Linked DNA regions of Homo sapiens. The protein of the gene in region 2 interacts with the protein of the main gene of each other region in a pairwise test. Each region holds a gene or a part of one and is shown on either strand. Other genes may lie near its edges. The genes, in order: RERE and ZMYND8.

Region 1 (3,809 bases), on a different chromosome or scaffold from region 2:
CTCGCAGCCTGCTTATCGCCTGAGTGCTCAGGTCTTCTCTCAAGGCGCCCCCTTGTGCTTCTCCCCGACTCCTTCAAATTACTTAGAAGTTATGAACCCAAAGGCTGCAGGAGAAGGACAGGCCCTTTCCTCGAAGGCCCTCCGGTAGGAGGACGCACAGTCACTGCTGGGAGTCAGCCTAGACCTGCCATGCGCAGTTACCCCGGCAGCTTCGGATGTGCAGCACCCGTCAGAGGTGTGGAGACAGGGTGTAAATAGCACCCAACCCTCTAGCTGCCAGGAGGCCGAGTCAGGCAGCCAAGGGCAGAGCTCGGTGGCCCAGCGTGGCTCCCAGGCGCAGGATGGACCAGCGCCCCCCGTCACACCTCGCCAACCCTGGACTCACAGCCGCCCGCTCTGCCTCGCGCTCCCGCTCTCGCTCCCGCTCCCGCTCCTTCTCCTTCTCCTTCTCCCGCTCTCGCTCCTCTCGGGCTTTCTGCTCAGCCTCGCGCTTGGCCTTCTCAATGGCCTCCTCCCTCTTCTTGGCCAGCTTGGACCCGGCCAGAGGCATGAAGTACAGGTCTGTCCGGGCACACGAGTTGTAGCCCCGGTCCAGGTGTTTGTAGAACCTGAGAAAAGCCACAGATCTTGCTGGGAGCTCCTGCCGAGACCCACCCCGGCCCTCCCTCCCACCAGAACTTGCCCCCACCAGCCCACCTGTGCCTGACCCGTCCTGGAGCCCTAGGAAGCGTACCTAGCTGACTGGCTGGCGTGACTGGGGGTGTCCACCACAGTGGGCTCCGGGGACGGGCTCCTTGGTGGGGGAGGGGGGCTCTCAGGCTCCTCAGCGTCGTCCAGAGCCTCCTCCTTGATCTGGACGGTGGGGAGTGGGCAGGACGACCCCCCCGCTATGCTGCCTCCTGAAGCCGCCGCACCAGAGCAGGGTGGCTGGGCCGAGGTGCCAGGTCCCGCCGGTGGGGTAGAGGTGGAGGGGCAGGTCGGAGGGGTGATGGGAGGAGGGCCTCCAGGGACAAAGGGGTGCTGAGCAAACGGGGGTTGGGGGGCCACCTGGTGGAGGCCTGTAGGGGGGTGGGAGGCAGGGGGCGGGGGCAGGTTCTGGCTCTGGGTCAGCCCGGGGGGCTGGGCGGGCGAGGAGGGCAATGGCTGGCTCTGAGGCATGAGTTGCAGGGGTGGGGGGTGAGCCGACGGGGGGTGATGTGTGGACAGGGAGCTCAGGGGCTTCAGGGCTGGAGGGGGAGGCAGGTTGGCATTCATGGAGAAGGGTGAGGGCCCCGAGAGGTGGGGAGGGTGCTTGTGGGCCTGTGGCGCCGGCAGCTGGGGGATGGGAGTGGTAGGCGGGGGCTTGATGTGGGGCATGGCCAAGGGCGCTGGTGGCAGGGGCTGCTCCCGTGGAGGCTGTTGGGACTGCAGCGCTGACTGAGAGGCTGGCAGCTGCAGGGAGGTGTGAGGGTACGCTGCTGCTGGGGAGGTCCCCAGAGGGGCCTGGCCTTGGGAGGCCTGGGGAGGGAGGCCAAAGGGCTGTGGGGGGCCTGGGTGCTGCAGCAGGGGCCCAGCCTGCAGGCTGTGAGGGCCGGGTGGGCCCTGACCGTGCAGTGGGGGCTGGGCATGAGAGGGTGCAGAAGGCTGGCCCGCCGACCCAGTCAGAGGCTGCAGCGGGGGATGTGGCGAGGGATGCGGCGGGGGATGCGGTGAGGGCGGCCGCTGGGGGTGCAAGGCCGGTGCCTGTTGGATGTGGGTGTGGGGAACAGGCGCTGTGGGAGCCTGTGGCTGGTTAGGGGCCTGGGAGGCCGTGGGGGAGCCCTGTGGGGGAACTGCAGTGGCAGAGGGCGTGGGCCCTGGCGTGGGCAGCTGAGGGGTCCCTGGAGGAGCTGAGGAGGGAGCTGGGGTGACCCCAGTGGGAGCCTGCAAGGCTGGGGGCTGGGCCTGCAGCATCTGCTGCTGGGCTGACGAGTCCGAGTCACTCTCATTGTCCTGGGGGCTGGGGATGCTCGGGGACGTGCTGCGATTGTCCTGGTCGATGTCTTTGGGGTCACTGCTACCCTCATCGTTGACGCTGCGACTGTCTGAACTCTCTCCCTCACCTTCAGATGGCGAGTTGGGCCTGCTGATCTCCTGGAGTCAGAGAAGGGAAGGATGGAAGTCCCAGGAGGGCAGAGCCCTGTCTGCTCTGCACCACCAGTGCCGGACACACAGTAATGTTTGTGCAGATGAAGCAGCAAGCTTGGCTCCGGGACCACAGGTCGTGCCCTGACCCAGCCAGTGTCAAAGGCCACTCCAGCCCCACCCTAGGAGACAGGGCACGGCCACCAACTAGGGAGAACCCCGGCTGGGGGCTTCTGAAGAAGCATTAGCTTTACTCAGCAAGGCTCAGCAGCAAACCTCACCTGCGTTTTTGTCTTCTTGGAGCTGGTCCTGTCAGCCTCCTCCGTATCAGAGGCCACCTTCTCCCGCTGGCGTTTGTTACTCTTAAGAGGGGAAGAGGCTTCCTCCTTCACCTTCTGCAGGGGAAAAGCCCACAAGGAGCAATCAGGCCAAGGGAGACCATCCCATCAGCCTCAGCAAGGAAATGACGGTTTGCAGACACTTTGCTCCCTCATTCTGAGTTCCATCTCCAGGAGCAAAAAGCTCTAGAAGGGTCAACTGGGGCCAAGAAGGAACACGTATCTGGGGGTGGGAATGAGAGCCAGCCCTCTGCACCTGTGGGTTTGCATCCTCAGATTCAAGCAACCATGGACTGAAAATGTAGGCAGGACTGTGATGGTTACATCTATACTGAACGTGCACACAATGTTTTCTTGTCATTATCTCCTGAACTAGACAGTGGAACCACTGTTTAAACTGCATTTACATTGCACTGGGCAGTAGAAGTAACCTAGGGATGATTTAGAGTCTACAGGAGGATGTGACTGGTCACATGCAAACCATGTGTCGATGTATATGAGATTTGAGCACCTGTGGATTTTGGTATCCTGGGCGGTGGAGGCTCTGGAGCCAATCTCTAATGGATACCAAGGGAGGACTGTACTTGGCTCTGGAGGGAGCCGTTCTAACCACTCCCCACACTTTCTGAGAACTTGGGAAGCTTGAGGCAGAGGTGGCCCCCAAGAGTTGGTGCTCGAGCCCCCTTCTCTAGGCCCCCAGCCTTCGGTCTGCAGCCCCTAGGCCAGGACAATGCTGGTGTCCAGACAGGCTCCATGAATGAGCTGCATCCTCGTGTCTGAGGGAGCTGATCACGAATACCAGCAAACCAGTTTTAATGTGAGGGAGGGACAGAGTAGGCCCTACTATCCCCCCAGCACCTGACCTTGGCCGACTTCTTCACTGTCTCTGCTTTACTGTCATTGCTGGAGGTACTGGCAGCGCTGGGGGAGTTCCGGCCGCTGGAGCGGATGTCTTCATTGATGGGTGAGGTGCGACCATCAGGGCTGGCTGGCTGCTTCTTCCGACCACTGCGTAGTGTCGACATCTGCCCACCCAAACCGAAGACTGGTGACACCAGATTCCCAGTCCCCATGTGGACCCACCTGAGCCCAACCCACAGGCAGAAGCCTGAAGGCACACCCTATCAGCCTCTCAGCAAATCCCAGACCTTGGCAAACAACAGGCCGCCCTGCCTGTCCCTGGCTGCATGAAGGTCGGTGTGGAGCTCAGGGAAGAGGTGGGGAAATCAGTGGGCTCACGCCAGAGGGCGGTTCTCAAACCTAAAGCACTCATCCCAAGGGACTGTCCTGAACAACGTGTGCTGGAAATGAACCACACTTTCTGAGCGGCAGAAAGTCGCCTGGGGCCATCTTTAAAGCACCCTACAC
Region 2 (3,809 bases):
GTCCGCCCCCCCTCCCCAAAAAAGCCAATACACATATCCACCATACTCCATTTTCTAGTGCCCTAAGAAGCACTCAGTATTCTGGCACCAATCACCCAAATACTGTCCTACTACTGTAAGAAAATACACTTGGAGATGCCTAGGTGGCATGAGGGGAGGAAAGCAAAGCTGAAATCATCAAAACCTTTGAAATGAACACTGCTTTTTTTTTAGAGAGGGAGTCTTGCTCTGCCACCCACACTGGAGTGCAGTGGCGCAATCTCAGCTCACTGCAACCTCCGCCTCCTGGGTTCAAGCGATTATCCTGCCTCCGCCTCACGAGTAGCTGGGATTACAGGCGCCTGCTACCACGCCCCGCTAATTTTTGTATTTTAGTAGAGACAGGGTTTCACTATGTAGGTCAAGCTGGTTTTGAACTCCTGACCTCAAATGATCCACCCGCCTCGGCCTCCCCAAGTGCTGGGATTACAGGCGTGAGCCACCATGCCCAGCTTGAAATGAACACTCCTAACCGTTTGAGACTTGTCAAAAGAGAATGAGATGTCTGTGGAATGCAGCACTGAAGGACCATTTGACAAGATCCAAATGTTAACAAACACTTTGGGGAAATAAATGAGCATATTGGAAAAGAAGCTGCTCAGACTAAAAATGACTTGGTCACTAAAAGTAACCATCATTTTCTAACAGACTTCTCTTTCTGTACTCAAAATCAATCATACTGGATACCGAGCAGGTTAAAGGTAGGCAGGCCCATGTTTGAGTCCAGGTCCTGTTCTATGACTAGCTAGGCAACCTTAAACCAAACACAGCTTCACTGTGCCTCTCTCTCAGTGTGTTAGAGGGTCACATAACTTCTGATTTGTTTCTTTAAGGGTCACATAACTTTTGATAGTAAGTGTACGAGGTAGGATTCTAAACCAAATTAAGAAAACTGGAAACAGATACAATCACTTACCATCCTGTTTGGGAGATGGTTCTTTGGGTTCCTTCTTATTTTTTCGACCCTCCCGCCCAGAATGGTCTTCTCCTAAATCTATGACAAGTTCGCTCTCTGAATCAGAGTCCAGGCCCAAATGGACTGTTGGGGAATCCGTCTCATCTTTTCCCTTCAGTTTATCCTTTATGGGGTGAGGTGAAGGTTTTGCCTTTTCGGAAAAGTCCTTCTCAGGCTCAGGGCTGGCCTTGTCCTTGACTGCTCCAGGGTCTGCCTTCTCGCTGGCTGGTGACGTGCTTTTCAGCTCCTCTTTAATCTCCACTGGGTTTGTAGGCTTGGGCTTTTTTTTAACAGCAGATGGCTCTTTGTCCATCTGACAACCTTCTTTGTCCTCTGTGTCTTCTGGCTCGTTCTTAGACTTCTGCTCATCATCACTGATATACTCACTATCGCTACTATCTGACTTCTCAGAATCCTCCGAATCGCTGTGCTCTACGGCCGTATAGACATCTTCCGAGATTTCATTTATGCCTAAATTCAAAAAGAAAACCCAGCATGTGGCGTAGTCACAAAATAAAGAGCAGGATGAAAAATGCAAACATTTTTCCACACCAAATGCTGGAATAAGAAAAGCACGTTTCAAATCGCATCACATTGGCCTAAATGGGGCCAGTAATAATCTCAAGTGGCAACTGGCTACGGCTGCCAAGTGGTACTTGCCTTGGGAGAGGGTTTTGGTTGTTAGGAGACACAGGACCTACCAACGGAGATTTTAAATTTATATGGCACTAAACATGTGGTGCCAAATTTTTGCAACGTTGATAACTAATTGGGATTATTGAGAATGAAGAGGGCTGGAAGGGAACAGCAGGGACAAGCTGTTCAAACTGATCCAATTTACAGATTAGAAAACAGAGGCCCAGGGATATCACCTGCCCTAGGACACAAGACAGAGGCCAGGCCAGAACCCCGGGTTCCTGGCTCCCCACCAACACTCTTCCCTTGGGTTTCCAAAGGGTTAAAGTTCTTGATCCTTTGTGTCTAGGCCAAAGAAAATAAGCCAAAGCCTTAAAGCAGAGGTTGCAAACAGCCCACAAGCCACATCTAGCTTGCAGACATGTTTCATGCGAGAGGCACTGGTTTGGCCCACAGGGTATCTTGTCTGCTTTTAATTTATAAATGTGTTGTCCAACTCACAAATCAGGAAATTTCATATAGAAATCAAAGCAGGGGCTTCTGATGAAAGAGCGGAAAATCTAGCCGCTCTGGGTCACCAGCCTGCCAGGCATTGGCTGGAACAGGAAAGCCACTGGCTCCTCTAGGCGGGGGACACACTTGTCTCCAGGTGACCCGGGTGCCCAGCCCTCCCTCTTGTTCCCTGCACTCGTGGAAAGTCAACTGCCACTCGGTGTGCATTGCTCTTCCACTGGTAAAGGAGTCAAGAGAGAAGTCACATACTTCTGTCTCTTTCAAAAGGAAGAAGCACAAACTAGCAGGTGTTTCATACACACAAACAAAAATGGGCAGAAGCACATTTCTAACAATAGTTCCATTTAACCCATTTACGGCTCCTGCCCCCAACCATATGTTATGCCATCATACTGTAGATAATAATACCATATCCTAAACTTTTAGAAAGAGGAAAGAAAACCCAATCAAGTCTGTGCAATCTCTTCATTCTAGAGCAATGGCCACTGTGAATGGTGCCACTGTCCGACTTGTATACACCAAAAAGAAACCTGCAAAAATACCAGAGCCATGAACAGCCCGGGGCATGGGGGATCAGCTGGATCATTGGGGAATGTATCTGCCTCCACCAGGGCTCAATCAAAAACACAAGTCGAGCCAGGCATGGTGGTGCACACCTGTGGTCCCAGCTACTCAGGAGGCTGAGGCAGAAGAACTGCTTGAACCCAGGAGTTCAAGGCTAGCCAGGGCAACACAGGAAGAACACAAGCCAAAATACAAACACCCAGATCTGGTATAATTCTGGGATCCTAGGCTTGTGCTACTGGTAGGTAATGATTGGAAACAAGAAGGAAAAGTGTAAGCACATATGTGATAGGAAAAGCTTGGGTACTGCAGTCCAAAGGACATGAATTCAAATCCTGCTTTTCTGTTTTTATTACTGGTGTGACCCTGAACAAGTTATTTATCTCTCTGAGCCTCAGTTTCTCTATCCGCAAAATGGGACTGATAAAAGTATCAACCTCCCAAGACAATCTATATGCAGTGCTTAGCATAGTGTCCAAGGAAACACTCAGTAAATGGAAATAATAAAATTCTTATTAGCAATAAAAACAAATCAAGAGTTGGGCCAGCTGCATGGAAGGACCCAAGAGGATTATTTAAATGGCATGCCAAATTTCACCCATGCCACCCAATGTCCTCACCAAACAGGCAACCCAACGGGAGCTGTTGTCCTCTGGATAGCCCCAGATGGGTCCCTAACTCTAGCTGCTTTCTCACCTGAAGATGCAGAGCACCCACTGACACTCAGAGGAGCTTGCTCTCCAGAGGCCCAGCCATCCCCCACTTCTTTACAAATGCCCTCCTAGCTTTACTTACTTATTCAACAAACATTCCAGAGCATCTACCATGTGCACAGACCAAGTACCATAGAGAAGGCAAATCCTCATAAAACGGCCTCCCTGCCCTCAAGGAGCTTCCAGTCTAGATTGGGAGGGACACCCCCACACAAAGGGACCATTGCTACTTCCGAGCAATGAAGTACCAAAGGAGGAGGGCAGATGGGGAGGGCAGTCAGGGGAGACTTCCTGGAGGAGGTGAGATCTGAGCTCAGCCTCACAGAAGGCAGGATTCAGGTAGGCAGTGTGAAGGCAGGCAGCACAGGGAAGAGGAAGAAAGGCAACAG

Evidence for each region.
Region 1: the proteins of ZMYND8 (region 2) and RERE interact in a two-hybrid assay, tested with the Homo sapiens proteins (one large-scale study listed by BioGRID and IntAct).

What each region holds. Positions count from the first base shown.
Region 1 is NC_000001.11:8,359,379-8,363,187, forward strand, and holds part of RERE (arginine-glutamic acid dipeptide repeats protein), read right to left. Parts: intron 3,467-3,809; coding exon 3,305-3,466; intron 2,499-3,304; coding exon 2,385-2,498; intron 2,113-2,384; coding exon 734-2,112; intron 609-733; coding exon 386-608; intron 1-385. UniProt on the Homo sapiens protein: Plays a role as a transcriptional repressor during development. May play a role in the control of cell survival. Overexpression of RERE recruits BAX to the nucleus particularly to POD and triggers caspase-3 activation, leading to cell death.
Region 2 is NC_000020.11:47,245,053-47,248,861, forward strand, and holds part of ZMYND8 (MYND-type zinc finger-containing chromatin reader ZMYND8), read right to left. Parts: intron 1,466-3,809; coding exon 956-1,465; intron 1-955. UniProt on the Homo sapiens protein: Chromatin reader that recognizes dual histone modifications such as histone H3.1 dimethylated at 'Lys-36' and histone H4 acetylated at 'Lys-16' (H3.1K36me2-H4K16ac) and histone H3 methylated at 'Lys-4' and histone H4 acetylated at 'Lys-14' (H3K4me1-H3K14ac).